Linked DNA regions of Homo sapiens: region 1 is linked to region 2. Evidence: fine-mapped expression QTL. A gene starts in region 2. The other region holds a variant in brackets. All regions are shown on one strand. Distances are from middle to middle. Region 1 holds the start of LOC101060445 (a long non-coding RNA gene). Region 2 holds the start of RIGI (RNA sensor RIG-I).

Region 1 (14,863 bases), 68 kb before region 2:
CCCTGTTTGGGAGCAGACAAGAAGGAAGAGTAGCCTGGTGGCAGTGGCAACGATATAAGTACATAAGGAAAAGCAGATAAACTTCAGGACACTAAAAACCAATTATCTGCTCATTTTTACCCCTGTAGTCATTTCTGGGCATGCCTTAGTTTGCTTGGGTTGCTATAATGTAATGCCATAGACTGGCTGAAAGAACAGAAATGTATTTTCTCACAGTTATGGAGGCTGGAATTCTGAGATCAAAGTTGAAGCCACTTCATTTTCTGGTGAGGACACTCTTCCTGGTTTACAGATGGCCACCTTCTTGCTTGTTCTCACATGGCATTTCTTTGGTATGTGCCTGGTGGGGGAGAGAGAAAATAGGCTCTCATGTCTCTTCTTACAGCAACACTAATTGTATTGGATCAGGGTCCCACTCTTATGGAGACCCAGGAAAGCTGGTGGTATAACAACTTGGTTCAAGTCCAAATGCCTAAGAACCTGGGGAGGGGCATGGGGAATGCTGGTATAAGTCCCAGAGTCTGAATGCCCAGGAACAAGCAGGAGCTGTGATGTCCAAGGACAGGAGGGCAGGATCTTTGTAATGAATTTTTAATGTCAACCTTAGCACTCAGGGGATATGGCCTGGTCATCAGAACATCTGGAATCTAATCCTCTTTCTACTTCTCACCAGATGAGGGATCAAGACAGGTTATTTAGCATCCCTGCACTTGCGGTCCTGGGGATCTTATTTATATTCATTTAAAAAATAAATTACAAACAAACAGCCAGGCGCAGTGGCTCATGCCTATAATTCCATCACTTTGGGAGGCCGAGGTGGGTAGATCACCTGAGGTCAGGAGTTCTAGACCAGCCTGGCCAACATGGTGAAACCCCGTCTCTACTAAAAATACAAAAAATTAGCCAGGTGTGGTATTGTGTGCCTGTAATCCCAGCTACACAGGAGGCTGAGGCAGGAGAATTGCTTAAACCCGGGATGCAGAGGCTGCAGTGAGCCGAGATCGTGCCATTGCACGCCCGCCTGGGCTACAAGAGCAAAGCTCCGTCTCAAAAAAAAAAAAAAATTACAAACAAACAGAACTCCATTGTACAAAAAAACCTGTGATCCTCAAGTTAAGATCAGTCCTAGAATAAAAACACTAAGAATGGCTGAGAAAACAGACCTCCACCCTCTCAGCTCTCCATTACTGAGCAGCTGGGGAGCTGTCTCGCTCCCCGCATTCAGTGGCTCCTGTGGTCTGTATTTTTGTATCCTCCCCAAAATTCAGGTGGTGAAACCTTAACCCCCCAGGTAATGGTAATAGAAGCTGGGGCCTTTGGAAGGTGATTAGATCATGAGGGTAGTGCCTTTTAAAAGAGACTCAAGATAAGATAGAGACCCCCTCATTTCTTCTGCCATGGGAGAACACAGCAAGAAGTCACCATCCGTGAACCAGAAAGTGGGTTCTCACCAGATACTGAATCTGCCAGTGCCTTGAACCTAGACTTTCCAGCCAGAACTGTGAGAAATTTCTATTGTTTATAAGCCACCCAGTTGATATTTAGTTACAGCAGCCCAACCAAGACTGTGGTTATGAGGAAACAAACACATTATTGTGGCTAGACTAATGGAATTGGGTCCCTTACCTCCAAGTACACCCTCTGTCCTTTTCGGTAAAAATATCTTCGCCAGGCACGGTGTCTCATGCCTATGATCCCAACACTTTGGGAGGCCGAGGCTGGAGGGTTGCTTGAGCCCAGAAGTTTGAGACCAGCCTGGGCAACACTCTACAAAAAAAAAAATAAATAAATAAATAAATAAAATAAATCAGCCAGGTGTGCACCTGTGGTCCCAGCTGTTCAGGAGGCTGAGGTGGGAGGATCACTTGAGCCTGGGAGGTCGTGGCTATGATTGCTCCACTGCACTCCAGCCTGGGCAATAGAGTGAGACCCTATCAATCAATCACCACCCCCCCCCCCCCCAAAAAAAAAAGTATCTTGGCCAGTGTCTCAACCTTGCCCACTAACAAGCCTAAATAAACCAACTTCTTTTACCTGGTTCTTTAAGGGCTGCTCGTCTTACTATCCAAATTAAAAATCTGCTGTTCTCCCTCCCATATTCTTTGCGAATGAAGATTCCCCTGTTTGTTTGGATAGTTTTCCAAATTCATTACTGCATTCCTGGCATCCGCAGCAAGCTAAGAGTTAGTTAATATTTTTAATATAGCAAATAAGGATGAGGGATGCCCTTCATGTGTATTTACACACCAGATTTTTATGGTACATAGGGAGTAATCTAGGGAAAAGATATATTAGGCATGAATCTTAGCTGTGGTAGAAGCACAGCTCAAATTAGCTTAAGGAAAAAAAAAAAAAAGCTGGCTCATAGAACTTGAGGACAGTGGTGGCCATGACTATGGGCTTGATTGGATCTAGTGACTCAAGCTCCCTTCCATTTGCCCCTCCAACCACCCCCCCATCCCTCCACCAATCATACCTTCTGTTGGCCTCTGCAGTAGAGTGGCCTCTTCTGGGCCCTTCCACATGCCAGGGGATATGGCCACCAGCAGTTCTGGGGAAACCATTAGTAATTTGTGATCGTAGAGATTTGTCTCCCAGTATTCCCTAGGGCAAAAATATTGGGAGTTCCTAGTCACCTAAATGAAGAACCTTATTTTTAGCAGTTTCCCTTTCAGGGCTCTAACAGGACTGTGGAGTAATGTACGGGGTTATGTAGGAGCAATGCAGAGCCACTTTTGAAAAACAGTAGCCAAGGTTCTACTGGCTGCCTTCTTAGGACATTATTAAATATCATAAACACAAGTGGAATTTAACACCCAGCCAGTTTGTGTTCAACCAGACAGCGTCATTATGAACAAAGATTATATAACGATAGCTGATATTAAGTAAGTTTTAAAAGTTGACATCCCAAGAGTGAAGCCTACTTATTCAGTACAGATTTGTTGAATGAAATTCGTAGTTTTATTTTACGGCATAATGAAACAGAGTTCCAGACATGTACCTGCCAAATTTGGTTCTGGTTGTCTTATCGTATGCAGGCTGGATACCTGCTACTGTGCTTCTACAGGATGTTAACAGTGTCCCCTGAGTAAAACAGTTCCACGGTCAGTACATTTGGGAACCACTGAGTTAAATGGGTTTTATCACTGCAGAACAGACACAAGAACAATGTGTGCTGTAAATCACTGTTTGCAGGGAAGGTGGCAGCAAATGGCACAGAAACCCACCTGACCACAGACTGCTTTCTTCTGGGCGTTCACGCACTGTGCTCCACAGGATACTCTTGAGAAACATTGAGCTATGGTTGGTCTGTTGTTTGAAATTCAAATAATAATGAATCCATTTTAAGGACAGGAATTGGTTTACTGACCTTGATGTTGGGATGACTCTTCATTTCAGGGTGAAAATATCACAGCATCAGCACAGGCCAGGACCACAGAGATAACAAGGTGGTAGTTGTGTAACAGGTTGTGTCTGAACCACAGGAGCTTCAAAACATACACGGCTGGACACCCTGCCAGGATGCTCTAATGGGGCTGGGCATGTGTCCATGAAAAAGACTCCCCAGTTGTTTCTAAAATGTGGCCTTTGTTCTAGAAATGCAATGACCAGCATTTGGGAGTCAGTCAAAAGATCCACTTCCTAAAAGCCTACCTGCTCATTTCTTTCATTCAATACATATTAACCAAGTGCCTACTTTGTTTGAGTCCATGCCTGGCAATGACATTATTCCATTAAAAGTCAAACAAGGAAATGCTAAGTTCTCCTTATTTATTTTCACTTCAGTCTGCCTGCCTCAGTTGGCTGAATAGGGCTATTCACCTTCATCCAAATTGAATCATTTACATACTTAAAAGAACTTTTCTTGGCCAGGCATGGTGACTCACGCCTGTAATCCCAACACTGTGGGAGGCCGAGGCAAGTGGATCACTTGAGGTCAGGAGTTCAAGACCAGCCTGGCCAACATGGTGAAACCCCGACTCTACTAAAAATAAAAAAATTTAGCCGGGTGTGGTGGTGGGTGCCTGTACCCAGCTATGTGGGAGGCTGAGGCAGGAGAATCACTTGAACCTAGAAGGCAGAGGTTGCAGTGAGCCGAGATCACACCACTACACTCCAACCTGGGCAACAGAGTGAGACTCCATCTCAGAAAAAAAAATAATAATAATAACTTTTATCTTATTAAATCTATTTCTAGTAGATGTTTTACACATCCTATTGGAGTTCTTAAACAATAGTGTATTAGTCTGTTTTCACACTGCTATAAAGAACTGCCTGAGACTGGGTCATTTATAAAGAAAAGAGG[C/T]TTAATAGATTCACAGTTCCACATGGCTGAGGAGGCCTCAGGAAACTTACAATCATGGCAGAAGGGGAAGCAGGCAAGTCTTACATGGCAGCAGATGAGAGAGAGAGTGTGTGTAAAGGAGGAATTGTCAAACACTTATAAAACCATCAGATCTCATGAGAACTAACTCACTATCCCAAGAACAGCATGGGGACAACTGCCCCCGTGATCCAATCACCTCCCGTCAGGTCCCTCCCTTGACACATGGGGATTATAATTCAAGATGAGATTTGGGTGGGGACATATAGCCAAACCATATCAAATAGCAATTAAAAAAAATCACATAAGAAAAGACACTCTTAATAAAATACAAATAGAAAATGAAAAAAAACCAACTCATAAACTTGGTTTAAATAATCCATTTGTATTGGGTCTTAGTAAGAATACTACTACTAGTAACTATTATCAAGCAACTACTGTGTCATGTACTTTTCACACATTCTTTTAATTAAAAACTCTCCACTAACCCTTACAGTTCAGTATTATCCTTGTTTTACAGATGAAGAAAAGCCAAAGAGAAGTTATATAACTGGCAAGTTTCTCTGGCTCCCCGCCTGCACCACTGCTCACCAGATTGCATGAAGAGGGAGGCAGCTGTAACACCTCATCCCGTTGATCTCCAGGGAACTCAGATACTTGTTTCCACGTCCAGGAAACCGCAAACTAAGCTCTTTGAAGCATCAGCAAACCTTGCTAAGTGACACGTGAATGCCATTTGGATACATATTCTAATCTTTCAAGTAGAAAGGACAGTCAGACTGCCTCATCTGTAACATCCAAGGGATCTGAGAACAGACATTCAGTCCAGGTGTTGAACATCAACATCATTATAGGAAAATGGTCAAAGAGAACAATGGCACACGTTAAGAGAACATATTAATAGGGCAAGATGTATAGTAAACTAAGTTTTCAAGAAGTATTTTATCATTTTTATGCTCTCTACTAAAAGCTGACCACTGTAGAGTGGATACACATTGCTACATACAGCAACTCTACAGTGGACAGCTTTTAGTAGTAAGCATAAAAATGGCTTTATGTTCTCATGTTCTCTGTGTAGCCATACCACACGTTGCTACACCAGGAACATGAGTACATATAACCATTACATATACATACCTGTATGTATGTATATTAGTTACATATACATATGTACAGTATATACATGTATATATATTGAACCCTTGGAAGGGATCAGCAAAGAGGAGGACTCAATAAAAAAAGACTAGAATAGAACTAGAAGAGAGAGAAGCCCAGGGAGAGCTTCAAGAAGAGTGCTCAACAGGGCCAAATGCGCAGAGGTCAAATAGAAGGTTAAGAAGTGCCCAGTGGATTTGGCAACCAGAGTCACTGGTAACCTTCAAAAGAACAATTTCAGTAGATTGTTAAGGGCAAAAGCCAGTTTACAGTAGGTTAAGGAGACAAAGGGAGATAAAAATTCCCAACATTCCATTCATTCATCTATCCCAGTGTGTACAGAGTGATTACTGTGTGTTTGTTGGCAGTTGACTCTAAAAAGAAGGCTAGAAATGAGGCTTTTTAATTTTTCCCAAGTACTATGAGCTCTGTTGGCCTACAAAATACTCAGTGCTGTGATTCACTCATTTGTGCTTTGCATATATAATATAGTACAAACTGCTAAAGATATTTTTAAAAAATATATTTTCACAGGGGTACAAGCGATCCATGATTATACCCACTATGTTTGTTTCTTCTCCACTCAAAGTTACTCATTCCCTGTAGCTGAAGATTGAGGACCTGATATCATTTGGACATTTCTGCTGGATCAAATGGTATCTTCTCAAAATGAAAGTCCTTCCACTTCGAGTACAGTGTCTGAACTCCAGTTGCAATATCCTCCACCACAAAACTTTCAATTTTTATAACTGGAATCTCAAATGTCTTGTACTTCACATGGATTCCCCAGTCATGGCTGCAGTTCTGTCGGGCACAGAATATCTTTGCTCTTTTTTCAAAACTTGAAAACTGCTTTGGCTTGGGATGTGGTCTACTCACAAAGCATTCCTTAAAAGCATCTCCAAGCACAGTGTAATGGCATTCCTACAGATGAAGGGATGGAATAACACACAAAAGAGAACGTTAGAACCAGTACATAATTGTGATTTAAAAAAAAAAAAAAGAAAACCCCACAATAATCTGAGGCAAAGAACAGGTGGGTCTCACTTATTTTACAATTGGAGGAAAAAAAAAAATAGATTCACCCAAAGTCCAGAGGATCCATGCACCTGACTCCCCTCTACAGGCAGGGTGGGGTTGCAAGTGAGGACACTGGGCACCTCATAAAGAAGAAGATTAAGAAGGTTCCAGGTAACCCAGCTTCTGAAGGTAGATACTCATTATTCAAAAACAGAAGCGATGTTTGCTGAAAATTTGTGAAGCTGAAGTTCACCAGTGGCCCTGGCAGGCACAATCCAAAGGATACAGGGAAAACGACCAAGGTCAAGATGCAATTGAAGAAGGTCAGGGACTAATGTGTCCACAGGCCCCACCTAGAGTCAACTTTAGAGTAAACAGCTCAGAAACAAATGCAGATCCAACATACTAGTCCCTCAGGAAAACATAGGGTCTAAAAGGGCCATTTTTAGTAGAACAATCACCCAAATTGGAGCTGAAAGGACCTTTTACAGCTAAAGAAGCAGACTTAGAAAGGTAAGGGAACTTAGCAATATGACTCCTAATAGGCTTTTTGCCCAAACAGCTGAGCTGATGAGAGATTTCTGCTTTCTGAAGACGAACGGAACATCCTGAAGTAATAACTCCTCATCTGAGCCAGCCCAGCCCCTCCACTGTGCCCCCCATGCAAGAGTTATACCCCATATTTCTCTTTGGAGATTTTTCTAACCCTTTCTCTGAAAGTTTTAAGAAAGAAATATAAGGCTGCAATAGAAGGCTAATCTGCAGATGTCACATTTTACAAATAAGGAGATATTTTGTTTTCATTATAAAAGTGATCCATAGCCCAAAAGGAATGTTTGGAAAACATAAGGTAGTAGGAAAAGAGAAAAAAAGTCATGGAATCTCACCACCAAAATATTAATACATTTTGGTATAGTTCCCCTAGCCTTTGTTTTTCTGTAGCAAGGTAGGTTTTTTGACTTTTTCTCTTGACAATGACAATGAATGTATTTGCTGCTGTTGTTTCACACAGCTACAAAGTAGCATCTTTACAATTCTGTGTTCTGGTTACTTTTTTCCTTATTACCATTAGTTTGTAAGCAGTTTTTCATTATACTACATAAACTTCATAATTTTTTAAAATAAACTTTACTTTGGAACAATTTTAGATTTAAAGAAAAATTGCAAAGATATCCCAGAAAATTTCTGCATACCCTTTACCCAGTTTCCCCAAATGTTAACATCTCATATACCACAGCACATTTGTCAAAACCAAGATAATTAACATCAGTACATTACTATTATCTAAACTACAGATTTTACCACTCTTTCTCTAGTTGTATCCTTTATCTGTTCCAGGAGCTAATCCAGGACACGTCATTGCATTTAGCATGACTTTTTTTTTTTTTTTTTTGAGACAGAGTCTTGCTCTGTCACCCAGGCTGGAGCGCAGTGGCGCGATATCAGCTCACCGCAACCTCTGCCTCCCGGTTCAAGCGATTCTCCTGCCTCAGCCTCCCGAGTAACTAAGATTACAGCCACCTGCCACTACGCCCAGCTAACTTTTTTATTTTTAGTAGAGACGGGGTTTCACCATGTTGGCCGGGCTGGTCTCGAACTCCTGACCTCGTGATCGCCCACCTTGGCCTCCCAAAGTGTTTTGATTACAGGCATGAGCCACTATGCCTGGCCAAAAACTATTTCTTTATTATTGAACATTTAGTATTTTTTTTTCACTTCTTAGCTTTTTTTAAATACACAGATCATGGCCACAGTAACAATGGAAATAATAGTAGTTTTATTATAAATATTTCACCAACAGTAAGCTGTAGCTAGTGCTAAAACATGACCAGGCACTTTGTAAAAAGGCAGCTTACCTCTATCACTCTTACGTCAGCTGTGTAACATGCCAAGGCTTTGCACTTTCTGCAGAGCAGTTTTTTATTTTCCTTATCAGGTACAGGTTTTGGTTTTTCTTGACTATCTCTGATGAATTTTTCATGAGTCTGTATATGCAGAATCTAATGCAAAAAGAAAGACCGCAAATGTAATTTGAGTACAACATATATAGCAAGAAACAGGCACAGATACGTACAATACATATACATGCACGCACATGTATAATCATTCATATACAACTTCCATGAACATATGGTACCTGACTTTGTAAAATCACAGATTTTATTGGTTCTCCTAACTTAGTATTAGTCAATGCTTAATTGTGGCCTCCAATTAGTCTTTCAATTTCTTCATCAAAAATGCTCATAAAAGCACTAAAGATGTCCATAGAATAGTCATATGAACTATGCTTTCTACTTTAGTGTTTGGCAAAACTTGGGAAAAAAAACAAAACCTGTACCAGATATACAATATGCGCTGTTTCAGGCATAATTATATCCATTTGCAGGCACAAACTCAGTGAGTGATACAACAGGCAGAAGAGCCCCTGATATGGTTTGGCTGTGTCCTCACCCAAATCTCAACTTGAATTGTATCTTAACAGAATTCCCACGTGTTATGGGAGGGACCCAGGGGGAGGTAATTGAATCATGGGGGGCCAGTCTTTCCTGTGCTATTCTTATGATAGTGATTGTGTCTCACAAGACCTGATGGGTTTATCAGCGTTTCCACTTTTGCTTCTTCCTCATTTTTCTCTTGCCGCTGCCATGTAAGAAGTGCCTTCTGCCTCCCTCCGTGATTCTGAGGCCTCCCCAGCCATGTGGAACTGTAAGTCCAATTAAACCTCTTTGTTTTCCCAATCTCGGTTATGTCTTTGTCAGTGGCATGAAAACAGACTAATACAGCCCCCAACATCTAAAACCTTTTTTCTCTCTCCCCTTCAGCCACAGGGAATATTGTTGCATATGTATAGTATGATTGTATTCTAATTCAAAATCTAGGCCTTGGCTAAGAACATGGTCCAACTTAGAACCATGGACATGATATTATAAAACTCTTCATACCAATAAACAGAAAGATCTCAAACTGAATGAAAAAAAAAGACAATCATAGATGCCAACACTGAGAAGAGAAAGATTTTAAAGCACCTAATAAAGATGCTTCGATGGGCAATTATAAATACTTTTGAAACATAAAGAGAAAACATAAAGGCTCAACAATGAAATGGAAGACATAAAGTTTAGAACTGAAAGATACAACCAAAATAAAAAGTTCAATGGATGGGCTTTCCATAGCAGAATGGAAGGGACAAAGAAAAGAGTCAGTGAACTGAAAGAACAACAGAAATTACCCAATCTGAACAACAAAAAAATACACTGGGGAAAAAAAAAGCGCAAAGTCTCAAGGACCCGTAGGACTATAAAAAATGATGTCATGGCACTGGAGTTCTGCAAGGAGTGAAGAAAGAGCAGGGCTTAAAAAGTATTCACAGAAATGACCTCCAAATATATCCCAAATTTAACAAGCTACATCAACCAGGATTCAAGAAGCTGAACAAGCTCCAAACAGGATAAACCCCTTCAAAAAACACTCTAAGACAGGTTATAATTAAATTTATGAAAACTGAAGAAAAAAATCTTGAAAGCAGCCAGAAAAAAAAAAAAAAATGACACCTTACCCATAGGGGGAAATCAGTCTGAATAACAGGAGATTTGTCATTAGAAACGATGGAGGCTACCTGGAAGTGGCACAATATTTTTTAAACGCTGAAAGAAAAGAACAGTCCACCCCAGAACCCTAGACTCAGCAAAATGCCACCTTCAAAAATAAAGGAGAAATGAAGACATTCTTAGATGAAGGAACACTGAGAATCTGTCATCAGCAGATTTACCCTAAAAGAATGGCTAAAAGAAGTTTTCTAAACAGAGGAAATGATAAAAGGAACCCTGAAGCCTCATGAAGGAAGAAAGAACACACTGATTTCCTCCATGTCTTCTATGGAAGATTCTGTCCGTCCCACTGGTTTATGGTTTATGGTGGCGCCTCTCCATATCAGATTATGCTTTCACGTGTCCCAGGTGGATCCAGACAGCCTAGGTGCAAATAGTGTCCCTGTCACTTAGCAGCTATGTGATTTGGGGCAAGTGCCTCGTTTCTTTACATACAAAATGGGACAATAGCATCTGCTTCACGGACTGTCAGGAGATAACATGAGTTTATGACTGCTCAGGCCTGCCCAGCACAGGGTAAATGCCCATCACCGTTGCCTCTTCTCTGTTAGGCTAGTCTTATGCTAAGAGCCATGAAAATGTTAATGGGGTGGCTTGTAGTTTTGTATTGATAAGGCAATCTCCATTCATTAGGGATTGCCTTATCAATACGAAACTACTAGCTACCCCCATTTTTATTTTTCTAGAAATATAGCTATTTTCATCTATTTATTATTTTATATAAACTCTAGAACCATTTTATCAAGTTAAAAGTATCATTTATGCTTTCAATATGGTTTGTGACACGTGAATAAGCAAATTTGGGGTGAATGCACGTGTTTAAAATATTCAGTCATTCCATTCAAGAGCATGGCATTTCTTTTATCTTAATATCTCCCAGTAAAATTTTTTTATTTGTCCTCATTTCTGCTTCAAACTTTTCTGATTAGGCTGGTAGATGTAATGGTGAAACAGATGGGTTCTACCAACTCTACCATGAACTAGCTGTGTGATCTACTGGCACTGAAGCTATTCAAGTCTCAGTTTCCTGCCTATAAAATGACATAGGAGGCACTACTGTATGGATTGCTGTAAAGCCTATTGATGTAAGTAAAGCATTTGCAGGGACTGTTGGAGAGTCAGTGTTCTACATGCATGAGCTACACTTATTGTCACTGCGAATGGAAATCTCCCTCCCCCTTATATCTTTTAATTGGTTACGGATCATACATAGATAATATATTGATTACCATACCACTTCAAATTCAAATTTGCTTTATATAAAAAAAAAATTAGATCTAGCTTTTTTTTTTTTTTTTTTTTTTGAGACAGAGTCTCATTTTGTCACCCAGGCTGGAATGCAGTGGCACAATCTCAGCTCACTGCAACTTCCAGCTCCTGGGTTCAAATGATTCTCCTGCCTCAGCCTCCCAAGTAGCTGGGATTACAGGCAGGTGCCACCACATCCAGCTAATTTTTGTATTTTTAGTAGAGATGGGGCTTCACCATGTCAGCCAGGCTGGTCTTGAACTCCTGACCTCAGGTTATCCACCCACCTCAGCCTCCCAAAGTGCTGGCATTACAGGTGTAAGCCACCACACCCGGCTTCCTTTCCCCCACTCCCCCTTTTTGAGATAGATTCCTACTATGTTGCCCTGGCTGGACTTGAACTCTTGGGCTTAAATGATCCTCCCATGTAGCTGGCGCAATAGGCGTGAGCCATCATGCCCAGCTAGACCTAGAATGTTTTGATTTAAAAAAACAAATATACTGGCTGGGCACAGTAGCTCACGCCTGTAATCCCAGCACTTTGGGATATGCCGAGGCTGGCATATCACTTGAGTCCAGAGTTCAAGACCAGCCTGGGCGACATAGCAAAGCCCCATCTCTACTAAAACTACAAAAATTAGTGATGCGTGGTGGCACACACCTGTAGTCCTAGCTGCTTGGGAGGCTGAGATTGCAGTGAGCCAATATCACACCACTGCACTCCAGCCTGGGCTCTGTCTCAAAAAAATAAATAAGAAATAATTAAAAAATTAAAAACCAAATATAATTTCCCCTTCCCCACTTCTTGGCCCCATCCCACCTGAAATTATCTTCATTATTTTTGTAAAAATAAAGGGTGTCCAGGCCTCCTGTTTTTAATCCAATTTTTCAGTTGTAAAACTGTTACATTATATGTATTTATCCCATTCTTTCCTTTGGACAAATTTCTAGAATTGAAATCCCTGGGTTATATGATACACATTTTCCTATGAGCAATTTTAATTTTCTTTTTTAATTTCTTTTTCAGATATGGTTCTAATCACTACTTAAGCAGAATAGAGGTTACCAGGAAAGAAGGTGAAAATATAACCTTGCCTTTCAGGCATCCAACTTTTTAAAAAAATTCACTTATAATGGTATTCAATTATATACTGAAATTCAATTAAATACTAATAATCTCAAATATTTTAAGTGTTACTCTAGGCAATAGGTATAAATCCTAATAAGTTAAAACTATTACAGCTATACTTAAAACTAAGTAAAAATCAATAACTGGGTAAAGAGGCTCAACCAATCATAAGTTAAGTCTATGGCATACTGACCTTCACCCATGCAACCTGTGGCTAAAGAAGCAGCCTAGCTCCACACACTGAGGTGGAGAAAAGCAAACTATCTTAATTATGTGTAGTCATGGGTATGCATGTTGGAAGTTCTTTGTTCAGAATGAACTTTCTTTCACCCCATCTTTATTCTCTGCTCCATGAGGAAAGAAAAACAGCTTCCTCCTCATTCTGATTTCAAATAAACCTTCACAACCACAACTGTCATACCGTTCATCCCTTATTCCTCCAGAATGAAACACCACCAAATCCTGAAGCGTCCACCATGGAAATCAGTTCTTGGATACCTCTGGGCTGTCTACATGTTAAGATGGCTGCAGAGTGACCAGAGAATTCTGGGGCGGGGGATGGGGAGTGCTCTAGTGACAGCAGGCCACACACAGACAATGGACAGTACAGCTGGGGCGCTGGGGAAGAAAGCAGTCTGCCAGTACTCTGCTCATCCCTCTCCCTTTCCTGTTCTTGCAGATTGCCCTAAAGAGCTCCAAGCTTTTGCCCTCTGTTCTGCAGAGTTCCTTCCTTCCGTTAAAACCCATATACAGGGACCAGGATGCTCAAACCCAAACCCCAAACCCTTATCAAAGCACCCACAAAAGGGGGGCTCACCCCTAGAACCATAATTCCCTTTAGTCTTAAGAATATAAGATTTTCCCTACCTCGTTATACTTTTACTAAGCCTTTTTTTGTTTGTTTTTTTGAGACGGAGTCTTACTCTGTTGCCCAGGCTGGAGTGCAGTGGCGCGATCTCGGCTCACTGCAAGCTCTGCCTCCCGGGTTCACGCCATTCTCCTGCCTCAGCCTCCCGAGTAGCTGGGACTACAGGTGCCCGTCACCGCGCCTGGCTAATTTTTTGTATTTTTAGTAGAGACGGGGTTTCACCGTGGTCTCAATCTCCTGACCTCGTGATCCACCCGCCTCGGCCTCCCAAAGTGCTGGGATTACAGGCATGAGCCACCGCGCCCGGCCTTTACTAAGCCTTTGAAAGCAAATCCTTCCCCTTTGAGCAGGGCAGCTGGGCCTGGTCATGTATGATAGGACAGGGATACCAACACAACTCAGGCTTCCCAGCTGCCAGTAACTCCCAGCTACACTGGTTATAGGGCTTCTTGTTCCCTACCATCTCTGCCTATCTATCTGTAAGTGTTACGGGAACCCCAAATGCTATTACATAGCCTGATTCAACAGATACTTAACCCATTTCCTCCTCACCCCACTCCTTATCCTGGTGTGCTGGCTACAAAAGAATGCCTACATCTGGTCTAGCCTCTCTCTTCCTCAACAGACTTTTACTCTGTTGCTTCTGTCACATGAGTCTAAGTAGCTTGTCACCTAGGAGAAGAGATAAAAATTATGCCATGGCTATTAAAACTCGTGGTTTTAAAACGTGTATTGGCAATATATTTTACAAAATGGAAAGGTGGCTCAGTGAAGAGAGAATAGAGAATCCCATCCCCAGTAAAACTAAGGGAGGAACTAAATAATTTCCCTGCAATTCTTCTCACTGAAAATGTGGAAGAGGTGGTTCTAGATAACTTAATCTCCCAGCTTTAGGAAGAAAAATGTTTTTAGACTAGTAAACATTGACAAAGTTTTGATTTGTGTCCTAAAATAAGTGTTAATCTGCTTTAGATAATTGATGGTCAATACTTTTTGGAGCACAGAGATTATGACTTTTTAAAATTATAGACACTATGGAGTTGGTCTATTAAACTGTAAGGTTCATCTTCATGAAGTTAAACTATGTCTCACACTTCTGTCCAGTAACAGCTCTCATTTCTTGGGCACGTATTTTATGCCAGGCGCTAAGAGATGCAATGCATACATCTCATTTATCCTCATGACCACCCTGGGAGTTAAATACTATTATTTTCCCCACTTTTTACATGAGGAGATTGATTATTTAAAAGACAGAGCAACTGCCTGAGGTCACACATCTTGCAACTGATAGAACTGGGATTTGAACCATGGATTCTAGTGTTAAAGCTCTCCCCTAGCCCTGCAGTGATCATGCTTCCAGAGATTCTGAGATGAAAATCTCTGCAATGGGTCTGGAGAAAGTATGGGTATGTGTTTCTTGACTTTCTCCAATCTGATTTCATGTTTCTGTGTTACGGAAATTACAATGAAATGAAGGTCATTACACTAAGAGGTTGATCTGAATAGGCATC
Region 2 (17,152 bases):
AAGTCCAAAGTGTTTTTCAAGTTCACATGACTTCAGTAAATCTTTAATAAACAAGCTGTCTTTAAAATTATTGGTAAAATAAAAATAGAAATGTCTTCAGAATTGTCAGCATACATTTTTGTCTCGGCTTTATATTTGTCTCAGCTAGATAATTTGAGGTATCAGAGTTTGGCAGCAGGTTATAAAGCTATAAACCCAGTGAATATTTGTGTGAATTCTTTATAAGACTAATTTAATGCTGTTAGTTTAATGAAAACAGCTGAATCTTCTGAGTTATTGATCAAAATGCCCACGTATTAATTTTAAGGTTATTTAGGTGAACACCTGACATTCACAGGTTATAAAATGGTTAAGAAGGAAATGATGCAGAAATAATCTAGATAAACTGCTAAAAATAAATAAAATGTAAATGGTCAAATGCTGTAAATGAACTTTTGGCATAATCGGAAATATAATCATTGGATGTTTGAGTCATTTCCAATTAAGAAAAGGTTATGATGTGGGGAACATGTTTCTAAAAATTGTGGAATGGTTCTCATCTATAAAATACTAATATCTGCTAGGCAGCTCAAGATTTCTTGCTTCCTAGGTTTTTACTGAAATTTAAGGTTGTTACTAAGGATAAGAATTCTAGTTCATATGTAATTCTATATATAAAATGTGCAAAAGACAATGTGTTTTTATTCAGAAAAAAATTTTATCTAACTCAGAAGTTATCTAAAGTTTATTAATAATTATGGACTTGAAAGGTTACTTATGAAACAAGGTAGAAAAGAACAAGTAGACGAGAGAGATGTGGAGAAAGTTATGAGTATAAAGATGTATTTTTGGTAAGGAAGGTTATAAAGAAAATAATTTTGTATGACAAAGCATCTTATAATGGTATTTTTTTTGTCCTAAAGTAAAATGACTGTTTAAAAAAAAAAAAAGAAGAAGAAAAAGAACGAAAATCCAGGACAAATCAGAAAGTCTAAGCATATCATAGATGGTGTGTGTAAGTCATGTAGTTTCTTTCCTATTTCTTTGTGTGTCTACCTTTATGTACAGACAGAGAAAATACAAAGTATAAAAGGCTTAAATAATATTCTCTTAAAACCAGATAGAATATTGGAGAAATCTGGCTAATTAACACTGCTCATAGTTAAAGCTCTTAGTCTTGATGAAAGTAAAATAAGAAATATTGTAAAGAAACACATTGGCAGTTTGGCAATCCTTTCTTAATATAGTTAACCATGAAGCCAGATAAAAGCCAGATATAGCAACAACCAAATTTCACCTACATGCTTGCATTGCTTCACACTGTATTTGCTCTTCTGCATAGATATACTATCATTACAGTATAATACTTACTGGTCGGCCTCCTCCAGAGTAGCTGGGATTATAGTTGTGTGCCATCATGCCTGGCCAATTTTTGTATTTTTAGTAGAGATGGGGTTTTACCATGTTGGCCAGGCTGGTCTCAAACTCCTGGCCTCAAGTGATTCACCCATCTTGGCCTCCCAAAGTGCTGAGATTACAGGCCTGAGCCACCACGCCCAGCCTAAAGTGAATTTCTTAATTGCACAAAATATATAGTGGTATTGGTGAACTTAAAGACATTAAATTGTGCATCAGGAACAAAATATTCATCATGTGTTTTTTTGGCTCTGGGTAACACTATAGCCTCCAAGTTAAACTGAGTAGAAAATTTTCAGGTTGGTTTCCTGTTTGTTTTTTCTTTTAATTTGCATTTATTTGCTGTTTCTTCTTCTTTAGGTTTTACTTATATATACATATTAATAAAACCATTGATGGCTTTTAGTTTCTAATGTAAGGAAGGCTTTTATTTGGTTCCATGAATAATCATTTTGTTTCCTATGCATTTCCAGTATCTCATCATTTGCTCTACTTATCCAAAGTTCCTAAGCTACCTTTTTCAAGCTTCCAAAAATTGTTGGTGGACACCAGCCTTTAAAATTTGTTTGGTTTTGCTTACCTCTAATGAACTAGAGAGCTATAAGAACTTTAAGATTCCTGGCAAAAAATAATAAAAGGTTTATTCTTCTAAGTTCTGAACAGAAATAGTACATTATTATTGGTTATTTGGAAAAGTAGGTGAGAGAAATGTTTAAGTGGTGTTTATTTCCAAGGTAATTCAATTCAATAAACAATAGCGGTTTCAGATCTTTTCCTTTAATGAGGCAAAACTGCTATATGGGTACAAAGTCTTAATATTCAGAAAAAAATTGGCTTTGTCTTTAAGGAAATTATATTGATTGGGCTTTCTCTCAAACTAATTTAGTTGTGTTTACTATTATTAAGATTAAATAACATTTACTTGGATTAAGTCATAAAAAAAATTATAAGACTTTCTAGTGTTTTTTTTATCCTAAGCCATTTATCACTGATGGGCCTTCACATGTATACTTGAAAACAAAATATGTACATACAAGTGTTATGCCAGTTTGAAGATTCTAGTGGTGTAAGTCACTTAAATCAGTTGTCAGTACTTTATCTAGAAACCAATCTTGGAAATGTATGATGAGGCTCTTTCAAAATAGCTGAAAAGAAATTACTGTGTGCTTATTGTCACTTTGTCCTTGTTTTGTTGTATACTTTTTAAATGAAAGATTTATCTTCATATTGAATTTCCAAAACTGATACTTGCATTTACCATTTTTTTTTTTAATGATGGAAAGAAAAGTTAACTATCTTACTTTGGTAAGTTTGGCACAGGACTTACCACATTTTTGAGGCTCTAGGTCACAGTTTTGTCACTAGAATGCTAGCAGATAAATGCAAGGAGTAACCTAACCACTTTAATACAATGGATTGTATAATGGGTTGAAGTGTTTCAGACAGTAACTACTAGGCACCAAATCCCAGGGTTTTATTTTGTGACATATTAGAGAGAATGATGAGGTTTCCTGCAGTATAAATATGCTATTAAATAATTCTTAGGAAACAATTATTTAGTAATTCAAAGGCCTTTGACTCCTGGATCCAAAAAAGACACCAATACCTGCTAAATCTTGAGCACTGACACCAAATGAAGCCTCGTCTTCAGACTCAGGAGAAGGTGACAATCAAAATGAACTGCTTTCATGAGACATAGGGCTAGAAATTAAAACCATTCAATCCCTCTACGCCCAGGAACTATTGCACAAAAGGTGAGCACGTGAGCTTGTAAGGGCTGATTTTGAGTTATAAAATTAGTTCAGGGTTTTTCTATAAATTAAACATTAACATCAAAAGCACACTGATGCAAGGCCAATGTCTGGGCCCCTGTGTCATAACAGGGTTTTCTTGGAGCATTACTCTACTCTTTAATAGGAAATCGTAAAACGTTATAAAAAGATGGCTGGGTGTGGTGGCTCAGGCTGGGCGTGGTGGCTCAGGCCGGGGCTGGTGACTCAGGCCGGGTGTGGTGGCTCACGCCTGTAATCCCAGCACTTTGGGAGGCCGAGGCAGGCGGATCAGCTGAGGCCACGAGTTGGAGACCAGCCTGGCCAACATGGTGAAACCCCGTCTCTACTAAAAATACAAAAATTAGCCAAGTGTGGTGGCATGGCCTGTAATCCCAGCTACTAGGGAGGTTGAGGCAGGAGAATTGCTTGAACCCAGGAGGCAGAGGTTGCAGTGAGCCAAGATCGCACCACTGTAGCCTGGGCAACAGAGCCAGACACCATCTCAAAAAAAAAAAAAAAAAAAAAAACTTCACAGAAATCCTATCTTATAGTCAAACTGATTAAAATTCGGCTTATAAGGTTTTATTAAAATTAGCTTTAACATTAAAAATATACCATACAAAGGTAAAATTTGATGTTCTCTTTTGAATAAAATGTTTGTATAATATTGACATAAAATATTTGTTTACCTTTTGAGTGAACTGTGGGGGGAAGAAAAGGAAGAGGGAGAGACATTTAGTTGGCCTCATGCTGTCTTTATTAGGCCTTATTGTTGGGAAACTGAGTCGCCTATCAAAGGGTAAATGTGTTTGTTTTATCTTTTTGGCTAAATGAATAACTATTTTGTAGCGACCTGTGATCCTATTTTGTGATATCAAGTGTCTTAAATCTTTGATACTGACAGACTTCCCAACAGCAAATATTTCAAGTTCTAAATTCAGGGGGTTTTTTTTAACCTCAAACTAACTTTTTTGTGTATTAGCTTCCTTGAATTCCAATACAGACAGACATGTTAGGCTTCTTTGGTATATTAGAATTATACAGGCAGCATTATCAAATGTGAGGTGGTATTTAACTTCCTTTGGGTTATATTTGTATAGATGTGCTATTAATATGTGTTGCAGGACTATATGAGATTCCTAAAATTCTGATATGTCTTAATATATGGTGTCAGTAATGATGATTATTATGTTAAATTGTTGTATGCCAACAGAAAAAAAAATTTCCTTGTCAACTGTGTCTTTATGGCTCTCCTAAGACTTTTGTCATTGCAATTGTTGTTTTGCATTGATTCTTTTCAAAAAGTGACTTATAATCAGATATAGTCCAGAGCTTGTTTATTTAGGGGACTTCATGAAAAGGAGTCTTGAATGCAGATTTCTGATAACTTTGGAGACTGTGCCACTGGAATACAGAAAACTTCTAGGACTCTTAATTAGAGTCCCTCTTAATTAAAAGGCTGACATGTTTATAAAGATTACTAACCCAATATGAAACACAGCAGGAGTTGATTGCATGGACTGAACTAATGTGGGACTGAAATAATTTTTTATGGTTTTGTTTGAAAAAGTCTGGAGAATTTTTGTTTTTTGGAATCTGGAGAATTTTTTCTTTTAAGCTCTTCATAACCTTTAAGAATACAGTATATTAAGTAGAGTATACCCTTTTAAACAGAATTTGAGGCATTTTCTCTCTCCCTAATTTCTCCAGAATTTATAAACTATTTGTGAATATTCTTAGTTCATGGCAATGTGTTTTCTTGCATACATTTAATAAAAATCTGTTTTCTTTTATAAGGGGACACAGTTGGAGGAACAAGTTATTTTCCCAGGGCTTTGACTGAAATGGCCTTGTGAGAGGTTCCAGCAAAGCCAATTAGGAGAGCCCATATGGACAATAATTTTTGCTGCACTTTGTGTGGGTAAATAAGCCAAGTATATGTAACTGAGGCTTATTTTGCAGGTAGGCCCATCCAGCTGTGATATGTCTTTGGTGGAAGCGGGGAACAGTAATGATACAGATTGTGTCTCAGAAGAAAACTATAGTATTAGATTAACTTTTGATTCCTGGATGGCCACGTGGTCACCCATAGTATGGAACTGCCCACCACGCCATTCCTCAGCATGAAGCTGCCAGAAAGATTGAGGATCAGATTCCCCATGATCCAGGAATTGATAAATAGAAAGAGGGGGACTGAAACCAACACAATAGTCCCATATACAATTCTTTCGAATAAACATGGAAATTGACCCTCCTGATCTTAAAGCTGAAACTTATATTTGTTTTATCTGAGTTCCTTCCCCAGGAAAAGGACCCCCAGGCCTCTCAAAAGGTATAAAAGAACTGAAACTCATCAGACCATCACATCCAGACAATGAGACACCAGGCCCCTCATTTATCATGATTGCTTCCTTACCCCTCCAGAGTCCATTTTCCAACACCTAGTTATATTTCTTTCCTTCTATCCATACCCCTAATTTCAACGGGTCAGGGAGATGGATTTGAGACTGATCTCCTACCTCCTTTGCTGCAGCTCCCAATTAAAGCCTTGGCAAAACTTGTTGTCTCAGTGATTGGCTTTATGTGCAGCCAGCAAAAGAACCTAGGCTGAATCCCTGGTGTTTCAGTAACAATTGCACCCACTCTCATTGTTTCAGCAAGGATCTCCACATTAATGTCTCCCCAACTGTGGACCCTTTTCCTGAACTCCACACCTGTGCAGCCAACAATCTGATGAACATCTCTTCATGGATGTATCCAAGGCATACAAACCCAGCATACCTAAATCCGAATTTTTCTCCTCCTCCTGCAAACCTGTCCCTCTTCCCACATTTCCTATCTCAGAAACTACCATTTATTCACCCAAGGACCAAAGCCAGAGACCTGGAAGTCATTTCCACCCTGTCCTCACCCTTACCTCCTCACCACAACTCCCCAAGAGACCTATTGATTATACTTTCCAAATGTGTCTTGAATCCATCCATTTCTCCCCATTCCTCCGGATTCCTATTTTCCTAACTGGTATCCTTGCTTCCAGTTTTTCCACTCTGCTGTCCTGGCATCATTGCATCTGCCATTCTCTCTCTCCCTGTCTTGTACCTATTCAAGCCATTCCTCAAACTGAAGTCAAAGTCGTTTTTCTACAATGCAAATTCTATTTTGGTCCCCTCTCCTTATCACATTTCAGTGGATAAAGTCCAAAACTGTTCATATCCCACTTCTGCTTGCCTGTCAAGTTTCATCTCTCTGAACTCCTGCCTCTCTCTCCACAATGCCACCATACTAATATTTTCTGGATACCTGGAACACTCTAGTTTCTCTTTCACCTTGGACCTTTGCACATAAGGAGCCCTCTAACTGCAATTTATTGTCTCCTTCCAGCTAATTTTTCCTCTTTCTTTAGACCTCAGTTCAAATGCCAAATATCTGGGAAGCTTTGGCTGTGCCCTTTGGACTCTAGTAGACATCCCAGCTTTTTTCCATCAAAGCACTGCTGCACTTTATTATTTACTATTTTGTTACCTGCATTCACATAGACACACTAATCACTATTAGGGCAGGGACAGTTTCTACTGTGCTCATCATTGCTTCCTCAACTTTCAATGACACTATTAGGTAATAGGTGCTGAGTAAATTACCTCCAATGCTAACATAATACTGACACGAGTTGCTTATTTTATTCCATCAAAGTGTATCAAATCAATATATGAGTGCATGAAAAAATGGAATTCACACCAGTTGTTAGTGTTTCTTCCAAGTACTTCTTCAGGTGCCAAGCTACACTGGTCACTAGAATGCCATTCCACAACCTTTCTTTTAGTTTTGTAGAGCAATTAGCATTCAAGTTAGTTGCCGGTCTTAACGCCATTTCCAAAAACTGCAATAACATCAGGAAAGACTGGCACTTGGAGACTTTTAGGATTCCCAGGCCCCCTCTCATCGACTTTTTTTTGTTTTTCGGTTTTTTTTTTTTTTTTTTTTTTTTTTTTGGAGACAAGAGTCTCACGATGTCACCCAGGCTGAGTGCAGTGGTGCGATCTCACCATAACCTCTGCCTCCCTGGTTCAAGCGATTTTCATTCCTCAGCCTCCTGAGTAGCTGGGACTACAGGAGTGCACCACTACGCCTGGCTAATTTTGTATTTTTCGGTAGAGACGGGGTTTCACCATATTGGCCAAGCTGGTCTCGAACTCCTGACCTTGTGATCCACCCGCCTAGGCCTCCCAAAGTGCTGGCTGCAGGGAGCCGAAGGCCCTTGGGATGTGACCAACTCAGCATTCCGCTGGAGGCTATATGATCAAACAGCAAACTGTTTATCATGAATGCAGCACCTGGGCAAACTCACACTGCCTTGCCACCAAATGGTTTGCTGAGCGCCTCACTCCCTGGCGCCAGGCTCCTTGAAATTATTTATTGAGAAATCTAGCACCTATTGTTCAAAGAATGCAGTCTTGCAAGCCTGCTGTGAATCAAGCAGCCAGCCAACAAGCACCTCCCCTTCTCGCTATCTCTTTTGCCTAATAAGAAGGGCTGTGTAAAGCTCAGGGCCCTTGTCCACTAGAGGCAAGGTGCCCCCTGACCCCTTCTTCCAGATATACTCTTTTGTCTCTTGTCTTTTATTCCCGCGTTCGCCCCTCTTTGTTCAGTCCCCTAGGTCCGTGCGGGTTACATAGTGGCACCCCGAACAGCAACAGCATCGGGTGCTCTACAGCTGGGATTACAGCGTGAGGGACCACGCCCGGCCTCATCGATATCTTTTAAGTACCACCTCCTTTCACCTCTTTCCCAGAAGCCTCTGCTCATCTCCAGCACAAAGTAATTCGATACAAATTTACAAAATGGTCATTACCCAGGATCACCTGTCTCCGAAGTTAGATGGAAACACCTGTATTAAAGCCTAAAGCTATTCGGTCTGGAAAAGTCCGGCTCCTCTCCAGCTTCCACTTCTTTAGGCGTGCAAATAAGATTCGGCAGAGTAAGCATCAACTTCCTTTAAGCTCAGACCGCACTTTGTGCTCAGTACTGTAATTATCTGCCCTTTGTGTCCCATCCCTTGGACTGTAATGTATACTAAGGAAGAGCCCTTATCTTATTTCTCAATCTCTGTCAGTACCCAGCCAAGCACACAGTAGACTTTAATATTAGTGAAAATAAATGAAACAAAATTTCTTCCCCAGCTTTGAACCTAAATAGATGAGCACCCTTAAGCAAGTCACTTCACCTCGCTGGAACTCAGTTTCCCCACCTAGGCCTCCGAGGGCTCCTCAAACTCTGGCAACCTCTAGCCTAAAATGCTGCGGAGATCTTACCACAAACCTGGGGAGTCTGGCAGGCTCTCTGCATTGATTAAAAGAAGGGAACGAAGCAAGAGAAAAACAAGTCCTCAATTGTTTTCCGCCGAGAAGGCGCCGCTGGAGACACTCACCCTCCCTAAACCAGGGGGCCATGTAGCTCAGGATGTAGGTAGGGTCCAGGGTCTTCCGGATATAATCCTGGAAGGCTTGCAGGCTGCGTCGCTGCTCGGTGGTCATGCCGGCCTCTGCTTGCAGCTAGCTACGTTCCCCGCAGGCTGTGCCTCACTAGCTTTAAAGCCGGGTAGGAGGAGGGCGTGGCGAGCGGGGAAAGCAGGGATTTTCCGAGGAAATGAGGCCGGACGCGAGGCGGAGCTGCATAGGAACTTTAATAACTAAAGGGAAAATCGAAAGTGCAACTAGCGGCGGGCGGGGTTCGCGGAGGCTGTTTTGCCTCGGGCTAGTTTCGTTTCCCTCCGCACCGAGGAAGCCCGGGAACGGAGAGGACCCCTAGGAATTGCTTTTATTTTTATGATCTTATATTTTGTTTTGCTTTTATAGCGCTAACGTTTAGACACAGTAAAATGCACACAATCTGAGTGTGCAATTCGATGAGTTTTGTAAAGTGTACACCTGTGTACCCAGTTCTCCCACGTCGGCTGGGTGCCAGGGTAAGTCTATGTTTAGCTTTATAGGAAACCGCCACCTGTTGTCCAAAATGACTGATTACATCCAGTTTACATTCCCACCCGCAGTAGGAGAGCTCCAGTAGATAGACACATTGGTCAGCCTTTCTTTTTTTTTTTTAATTTTAACTTCCATCTTGGTCGGTGTGAAATGGTATATTATTGTGGTTTTAATTTTAATTTCCCATATAATTAATGGTGGGCACATTTGCATGTGCTTACTGGGTCATTCATATATCTTTTGTGAAGCATCTGCTCCAATCTTTTGCCTGACTTTGGAGTTTTTTGGTTTATGGATTTACAGGAGTTATTTATTCAGGATACAAAATTGTTAAATATATGTATTCGAAATATCTTCTTCCAGTCTGTGGCTTACCATTTCATTTTCTTAAAGGTGTCTTTTGAGGAGCAGACACTTATATTGATGCAATTTTCAGGTTTTTCTTCTGTTTGTTGTTTTTTGTGTCCTCTTTAATAAATCTTTGCCTACCCCAAGGTCATGAAAATATTGTTTCCTTTTAGATTTATATTTTTAGCCTTTACTTCTGGGTCTATTACTATCTCAAAATAATTTTGTTGTGGCGTGAGATGGGGGGTCCAGGTTCACTTTTTCCATATTTCTAATTGTTTCAGCACCGTTTGTTGAAAACTTTTCCTTTTGGCATTGGATAGCCTTGGGACCTTTGTAAAAAAACCAAGTCCATTGAATGTATATGTGTCTATTTCTGACTCTTGTTATATTCTACTTCCTACTACTTTGACAATACCATTGTCTCTAGGTTACTTTAGATTTCAACTAAGTCTCAAAATCAAGTACTACTAAGTTCTCCAAATTTGTTTTTCACTGTGAAGATATTAGCTATTTGAGATTCTTTGCATTCCTTTTTTTTTTTTTTTTTTAATTTCTTTTTTGAGACAAGGTCTCACTCTGTCTCCCAGGCTGGAGTGCAGTGGTGCAAACAGGGGTCACTGCAACCTTGAATCCCTGTGCATTTCCATATGAAATAAGAATCAACTTGTCAATTACCCCTTCCTTCCCCCAAAAAAAGTTTATGGGGATTTTGATCAAGATTGCATTGAACCTACAGATAAACTTGGGGAGAAGTGACATCTTAACAATATTGAGTCTTCTAATCCATAAGCATGGTATGCCTTTTCATTTACTTAGGTCTATAATTTCTCTCAGCAGTATTTTAGTTTTGTTTCATTTTATTTTACAGACGGAGTCTCACTATGTTGCCCAAGCTGGAGTGCAGTGGCTATTCACAGGCACAATTATAGTGTGCTACAGCCTTGAACTCTTGGGCTCAAGGGATCCACCTGGACTCAAGCAATCCTCCTACCTCAGCCATCCAGAGTAGCTGGGACTACAGGCACGGGCCATCACACCTGGCTATTCTGAACTATTTTATGTTATTTGATGCTACTGTCAATGGAATTGTTTTTAAGATTTCATTTTCAAATTGTCTGTTGCTACGGTATAGAAATACAAATGATTGGCTGGGTGTGGTGGCTCACACCTGTAATCCCAGCACTTTGGGAGGCTGAGGTGGGTGGATCACCTGAGGTCAGGAGTTCGAGACCAGCCTGGCCAACATGGTGAAACCTCATCTCTACTAAAAATACAAAAAATAGCCGGGCGTGGTGGTGGGCGCCTGTAATCCCATCTACTCGGGAGGCTGAGGCAGGAGAATCGCTTGAACCCAGGAAGCGGAGGGTGTGGTGAGCCGAGATTGCACCACTGCACTCCAGCCTGGGCGACAGAGTGAGACTCCATCTCACACACACACACAAAAAAAGAAATACAAGTGATTTTTGTTTTTTGACCTTAAAACATGCAACATTGCTAACTTCACTTATTTGTTCTAGTAATTGTTCTGTAAATTCCTCTAAGTTTTCTAGATAAATAATGATGTCATTTGTGAATACATACTTTAACTTCTTCCTTTCCAATCTTTATGCCTTTTATTTCCTTTCATTATAGTTTTTCTTTTTGAGACAGGGTCTCACTTTTGTCAACCAGGCTGCTGCAGCCTCCACCTCCCAGGCTCAAGGATCCTTCCACTGCAGCCTCCTGAGTAGCTAGGACCACAGGTGCACACCACTACACCCAGCTAATTTTTGTATTTTTTTGTAGAGATGGGGTTTCGCCCTGATGCCCAGGCTGGTCTCAAACTCCTGAACTCAAGCGATCGCCCATCTCGGCCTCTCAAAGTGCTGGGATTACAGACATGAGCCACCATGCCCAGCCAGTTTTACTTCTTTCTTTCCGGTCTTCATGCTTTTTGCCTCCTTTCTTTATTATGGTACCTCCTAGAGCCTCCTATAGAAAATAGAATAAAAGTGGTGACAGTTGACACCATTACTTTATTGCTAATTTCAGTGGGGAAATCATCAATGTAATAATAATCACTTTAAATAATATGGTAGCTGTAAATTTTTCTTAGATACCTTTTATCAGATTGATGAAGTTCTCTTTTATTCCTAGTTTGCTGAGTTTTTATAATGCATGGGTGTTGAATTTTTCAAATGTTTTTTCCTGCATTTATTGAGGTGATCATATATTCTGTTAACATACCAAATTTCACTGATCAATTTTTGAACGTTCACCCAACCTACCATTCCTGGGATAAATCTCATTTGGTTTTAGATACAAAGGATGCTATATCATGACCAAATGAGTATTTTCATAAATACTTTTGTGTCTGTGTTCATGAGGAATATTAGTCAATAATTTTATTTTCTTGTAATGTGTTTATCAGGTTTTGATATCAGAGTTATGCTAGTCTCATAAAGCAAGAGTTTGTTTCAGATTGGTATCATTTTCCCCTTAAATGTTTAACAGAATTCACTAATAAAACCATTTGGGCTTGACATTTTCCTTGTTTGAAGATTCTTTATAATGAATTCAATTTCTCAATTAGATATAAAGCTATTCTGACTTTTAATCTTTAATCAGTTTTGATAAATTGTGCTTCTCAAGTGTTAAAATAATTGGTAGGCCATTAGACTGATGTAGCTGTAACACCCTCATGAGGAAAATGAAACTTAGTTTAGCCAATCACAGTTGGCTAACTGGGACATTGGTTATATTGTCATAAATTTCTCACTTGGATAGTCCAAATAAGGCAAACACTCAAACTTTAACCAATGAAACAATTTCTTTGCTCTGTGTCCCTTCAACCCCCTCTAACAGAGCCCCAGACCATTTCTGGTTTGTAGCTGCTTAATTTATGAATCACTGCTGGAACACCTTAATTTTTTTTTTTTTTTTTTTTTTTTTTTTTTTTTTTTTTGAGACAGAGTCTCACTCTGTAGCCCAAGCTGGAGTGCAGTGGCACAATCTTGGCTCACTGCAGCCTTCACCTCTAGGGCTCAAGAGATTCTCCTGCCTCGGCCCCCAAGTAGCTGGGACTAGAGGCATGTGCCATCACACCCAGTTAATTTTTTTGTATTTTTTTAGTAGAGACTGGGTTTCACCATGTTGCCTGGGTGGTCTCGAACTCCTGAGCTCAGGCAATCCACCCACCTTGGCCTCCCAAAGTGATGGGATTACAGGTGTGAGCCACCACGCCTGGCCAGCTTGAAATTTTAATGTGGAAAAGTTTATATTTTAACACAAGGAATTTGATCATTTCCTCTAAATTGTTAAATGTATTGGCATATGGTGTTCGTGATAGACCTTATTATCTTTTTTGCCTTTTTAAAAAATCAGTCTTGCCAGGGATTTACCAATTGCATCTTTTCAAAGAACAAACTTTTAATTCAATAATTTTATTTTTTTAAGAGACAGGGTTTTGCTGTGTCATCCAGTAAAATGGACTCCTTGGATATACGTTAATCAAATATAACTTTAACCTCTTTTAGCTATAACTCTTTGTATTCTTTTAGCTATAGGTCTCTCTCCATACACACATACACATATATATTTGTATACACTCTACATATTATTTTATACGTGTGTGTGTGTGTATTTAGTGGTTGCACTAAGGATTATAATATGTATCCTCAACTTAATCTATTTAGAACTAATATTGTACCACATTAGGTAAAATATAAGATCATCACAACCATGTAATTCCACCCCATCCTTTTTGCTATCATTGTCTGAAACTGTACTTCTATATGTTATAAAATACATACTACAATAATACAATGTTATAAACCTTGTTATAGCTTGTTGTCTTTTAAGTAAAATAAGAAAAAAATTAGTTTTTGTTTTTCCATGCTGTTTGCTATTTCTGGTGCTATTCATTGCCTCTGGTAAACACTGGTTTCCAACTAATGTTATTTCACTTCTGTCTTCTCCAATTTGTTAAGGCTTCCAGTAACTTTTTCATTTTAGGTTTGTTTTTGTTTTTTTTTGTAGTTCCAGGATTTCCATTGTTTCTTTTTTCTACTTCTCATGTCTCAGCTGAGAACCACTATCTGTTCATTCATTAAACCATCTTTTCCTTTAAGTTCATACACATATTTCTAATAGTGTCTTTAAAGCCCTTGTCTGTGAATTCCATCTTGGAACCTGTTTTGGTGACGGCTTTTTCTCTTGACTATGGGTTCATTCACATGTCTAGTATTTTTTTTATACTGGATGCTACAGATGTATTATAGAATCTCTGGATTCTATTATTTTACTCTCAAGAGTATTACTTTTTGTTCTAGCATTCCACTGAATTACCGATGAATTACTTTAAACTTACAAAGGCATTGTTTACACACTGTGGTAGGTCTGTTTCAAATTTTGCCCTTCTTGCAAGGTAAGTCCTTAGTCCTGAGTCATAGTCTTCCACAGTAAGCTGTGGCCCTGCATGTTCCAGTGAAAAGTCCTACATGTTTCTCAGCCCATCTAAGTTGGTGGGATTCAACCTCCAAGTTCTATATTCCCTGTGGTGGTGGCTGAAATGTATCTATTGAGCCCTTTTAGCTTTCCAGCTATTGCTTACATGGGCTTTTTGGAATCTTCCCTGCACATGTACATTTCAGGGTCAGGTAAAGATTTGAGTGAAAGTTATACAAAAATTTTAGGGCTTGTTTTCTGTGTCTACTTTCTGAAATTTCTCCCTCAAAATGCAGTCACTCGGGCAGCCCCAGGGTCCATCTTCTGACACAATGTCTGTGGCTCTCTGCTTGCATTCTAGTCTCCCTATGGACCGGGGATGACCCTCAGATGAAATGCCAAAGAAACTGTTCTTATACAGTGTCATCTCCGTCTTTCAAGGGTCTAATTCCCTCCAGTTTCTGCTTTTTGATTGCCCTCCAGTGGCTTCAAGTTCTTTATACCCTTATGTTTTGCCTATGTTTATAATTATTATCTCATGCAAGCTACTCTTCCAATACCTGGATTTGGGTTTTAGCTGAGAAAAAGAAATCAGATCCAAAATTCCTTTAAAAAGGTAAAGACATGCCTCCTTCTATGCTACTAGTGGGAAATAATGTATTCCTGAATAACAACAGATTTAGAAAACATCAACAATTACAGTATAGATTATACCTGAAAGAACTGAAGGTCCAGAAATGGAATCATTTGACAGATTCATAGGTAAAATTTGACCAAGGCCAGGAAAGAAGGGGAGTGTCACAGAAGGATAAGATCACAGAAGGATTAGGTGATATCTTATCACCTAATACCTAGGTGATAGGTTGATAGGTGCAGCAAACCACCATGGCACACATTTACCTATGTAACAAACCTGCACATCCTGCAGATGTACCCCAGAACTTAAAATTAAAAATTAAAAATTAAAAAAAAAATCTCAGTCTTAGACCATCTCCTCACCTGGGCATTAATTTACTCAACACATTTACAGAATATCTACTGTATGTCAGGTACTGTGAAAAACACTAGATACATGGAGATAAGTGGAAAAGAGTCTCTGTCAAGAGCTTAGAGTCTGATTGAAGGAGGAAGAAGACACAATAAAGATGTAAAAACACAAATAGTAACTGCCAAATGTGAAGTGACATGGAGAAAACTATTTCAGTACAGTGGTAAGGGAATACCTTTCTGAGGAGGTCACATTTCAGCTGAATCCTGAAGAATGAGAAGGAATTAGCTATTCAAAAAAAAGCAGGTAGGCCGGGCACAGTGGCTCATACATGTAATCCCAGCACTTTGGGAGGCCAAGGCGGGTGGATCATTTGCAGTCAGGAGTTTGAGACCAGCCTGGCCAACATGGTGAAACCCCATCCCTACTAAAAATACAAAAAATTGGGTGTGGTGGCACACACCTGTAGTCCCAGCTACTCGGGAGGCTGAGGCAGGAGAACTGCTTAAACCTGGGAGACAGGGGTTGCAGTGAATCGAGATCACGAGATCACGCCACTGCCCTCCAGTCTGGGCAACAGAGCCAGACCCCGTCTCAAAAAAAAAAAAAAGCAGGTAGGAGACAGAATGCACAGAAGAGTTTTTTAAAAAAAGTGAAAGATGCAAGATGCTTGTAGCTGGAACTCTGTGAGCAACAAGTAAATGGTATTGCAAGTGGAGCTGAAACAGCAGCACCTTTAATGCAAGGAATGAAGTGCAGTGAGAACATACTGCAGGGTTTGTTGTTGTTGTTGTTGTTGTTTATTTTTTTTGAGATGGAGTCTTGCTCTGTTGCCCAGGCTGGAGTGCAGTGGTGCCATCTAGGCTCACTGCAAGCTCTGCCTCCCGGGTTCACGCCATTCTCCCGCGCCCACCACCATGCCAGGCTAATTTTGTTTTTGTATTTTTAGTAGAAACAGAGTTTCACCGTGTTAGCCAGGATGGTCTCCGCCTCCCAAAGTGCTGAGATTACAGGTGTGAGCCACCGCGCCCGGCCATACTGCAGGGTTTTAATCAAGGAATAGCATAATCTGATTACATTTTTTAAAAACCTCTCTGGCTCCTAGCCAGAATGAGATCAGTTGGGAGGTGACTCAAGTAAGAGATGCTGAGCAGCATAGATAAGGACACTGTGGCAGAGAGTGTAAGAAGTTAATTGAGATATATTTTAGAGACAGGATTGAGTGGCTGGCAGAGGAAAGGAATGAGAAAAATCGAGGATAAATTTCAGGTATCTGGTTTGAGCAACTGGGAGAATGGTATTACCATGACTAAAGTGGAGAATATGGCTTTAGAGCTTACCACATTCTAGTGAGGGAGACAGACAGAAAAGTAGATGTTATATAGTAATAAGTGCTGTGAGGAGAAATAAAGTAGAAAAAGGAATAAGGAGTAATGGGGCTGCTTATATTAGATGAGTTGGTCAGATCACGTAAACAAGCTCAGGCCAATGTGCTGGAGGATGAGAAACCACATAGAGCCCAGTAACCCCAGGTGAAGGCTTAGATCAGCCGACCTACAAGCTGACTGAAGACACACAAGAATGCCAGTCAAGACAGTCTTGGCAGGCAGTATCTCTAAGAACTAATATGACGCAGATACTGGTTTTGGTAAACAGGCAGGGTTTCTGTTTGAGCCTGTGCTGATCATAACTGCCCAGCCAGTCACTCAATCCTATCTCTAAAATATATGGGTGGTAGAGAGAAATAGGTTTGAGGAGAAAAAGGTGTAAAGAAGCCATTTTGTCAAATACAATGAGCAAGAATACTACAAAAACTTGCCCTCTAATGTCGTACAGCTTATGAAGCTGATGTACACCAATCTGCACGGTTACCAGTTACTGATTTCCTTCACAATACTTAGCAGCATGCACGTACGCAGAACCGAAGAGCTGGGTTCATCCAGACTGAGATCTTGCTAGGTAAACTGTAGGCCAACTACAGCTTGCATTCCAAATCTGGCACGTGTCTTGTTTTTGTACAGACCAAAAGCTAAAAATTGTTTTAACATTTAGAAAGTGTTGTAGGCCAGGCATGGTGGCTCACACCTGTAATCACAGCACTTTGGGAGGCCAAGATGGGAGGACTGCTTGAACCCAGGAGTTTGAGACCATGCTGGGCAACAAAGCAAAGCTCCACCTCAATTTGAAAAAAAGTGTAGAAAAAAACAAAGATTATGTGACACAGCCTGTGTATGGCCCTAGAG

The links. PIP is the estimated chance that this variant, and not a neighbour inherited with it, causes the effect.
Region 1: its variant is fine-mapped to the expression of RIGI in whole blood (TOPMed, PIP above 0.99). The same link has a PIP of 0.9 or more in T cells, blood mononuclear cells, lung and monocytes.

Annotation. Positions count from the first base shown.
Region 1 is chr9:32,451,016-32,465,878 of GRCh38, forward strand. ACO1 (aconitase 1) reads left to right here. Exons shown (of 21, transcript NM_002197.3): 21 at 1-3,754. It overlaps RIGI (RNA sensor RIG-I), which reads right to left. Exons shown (of 18, transcript NM_014314.4): 17 at 8,356-8,499; 18 at 4,287-6,403. The coding sequence ends at 6,107. It overlaps LOC101060445 (a long non-coding RNA gene), which reads left to right and starts at 8,027. Exons shown (of 1, transcript NR_197444.1): 1 at 8,027-14,433. The variant C/T (reference allele first, on the strand shown) is at 4,307.
Region 2 is chr9:32,517,469-32,534,620 of GRCh38, forward strand. It overlaps RIGI (RNA sensor RIG-I), which reads right to left and starts at 8,728. Exons shown (of 18, transcript NM_014314.4): 1 at 8,593-8,728. The coding sequence starts at 8,698. RefSeq lists an enhancer at 8,629-8,878.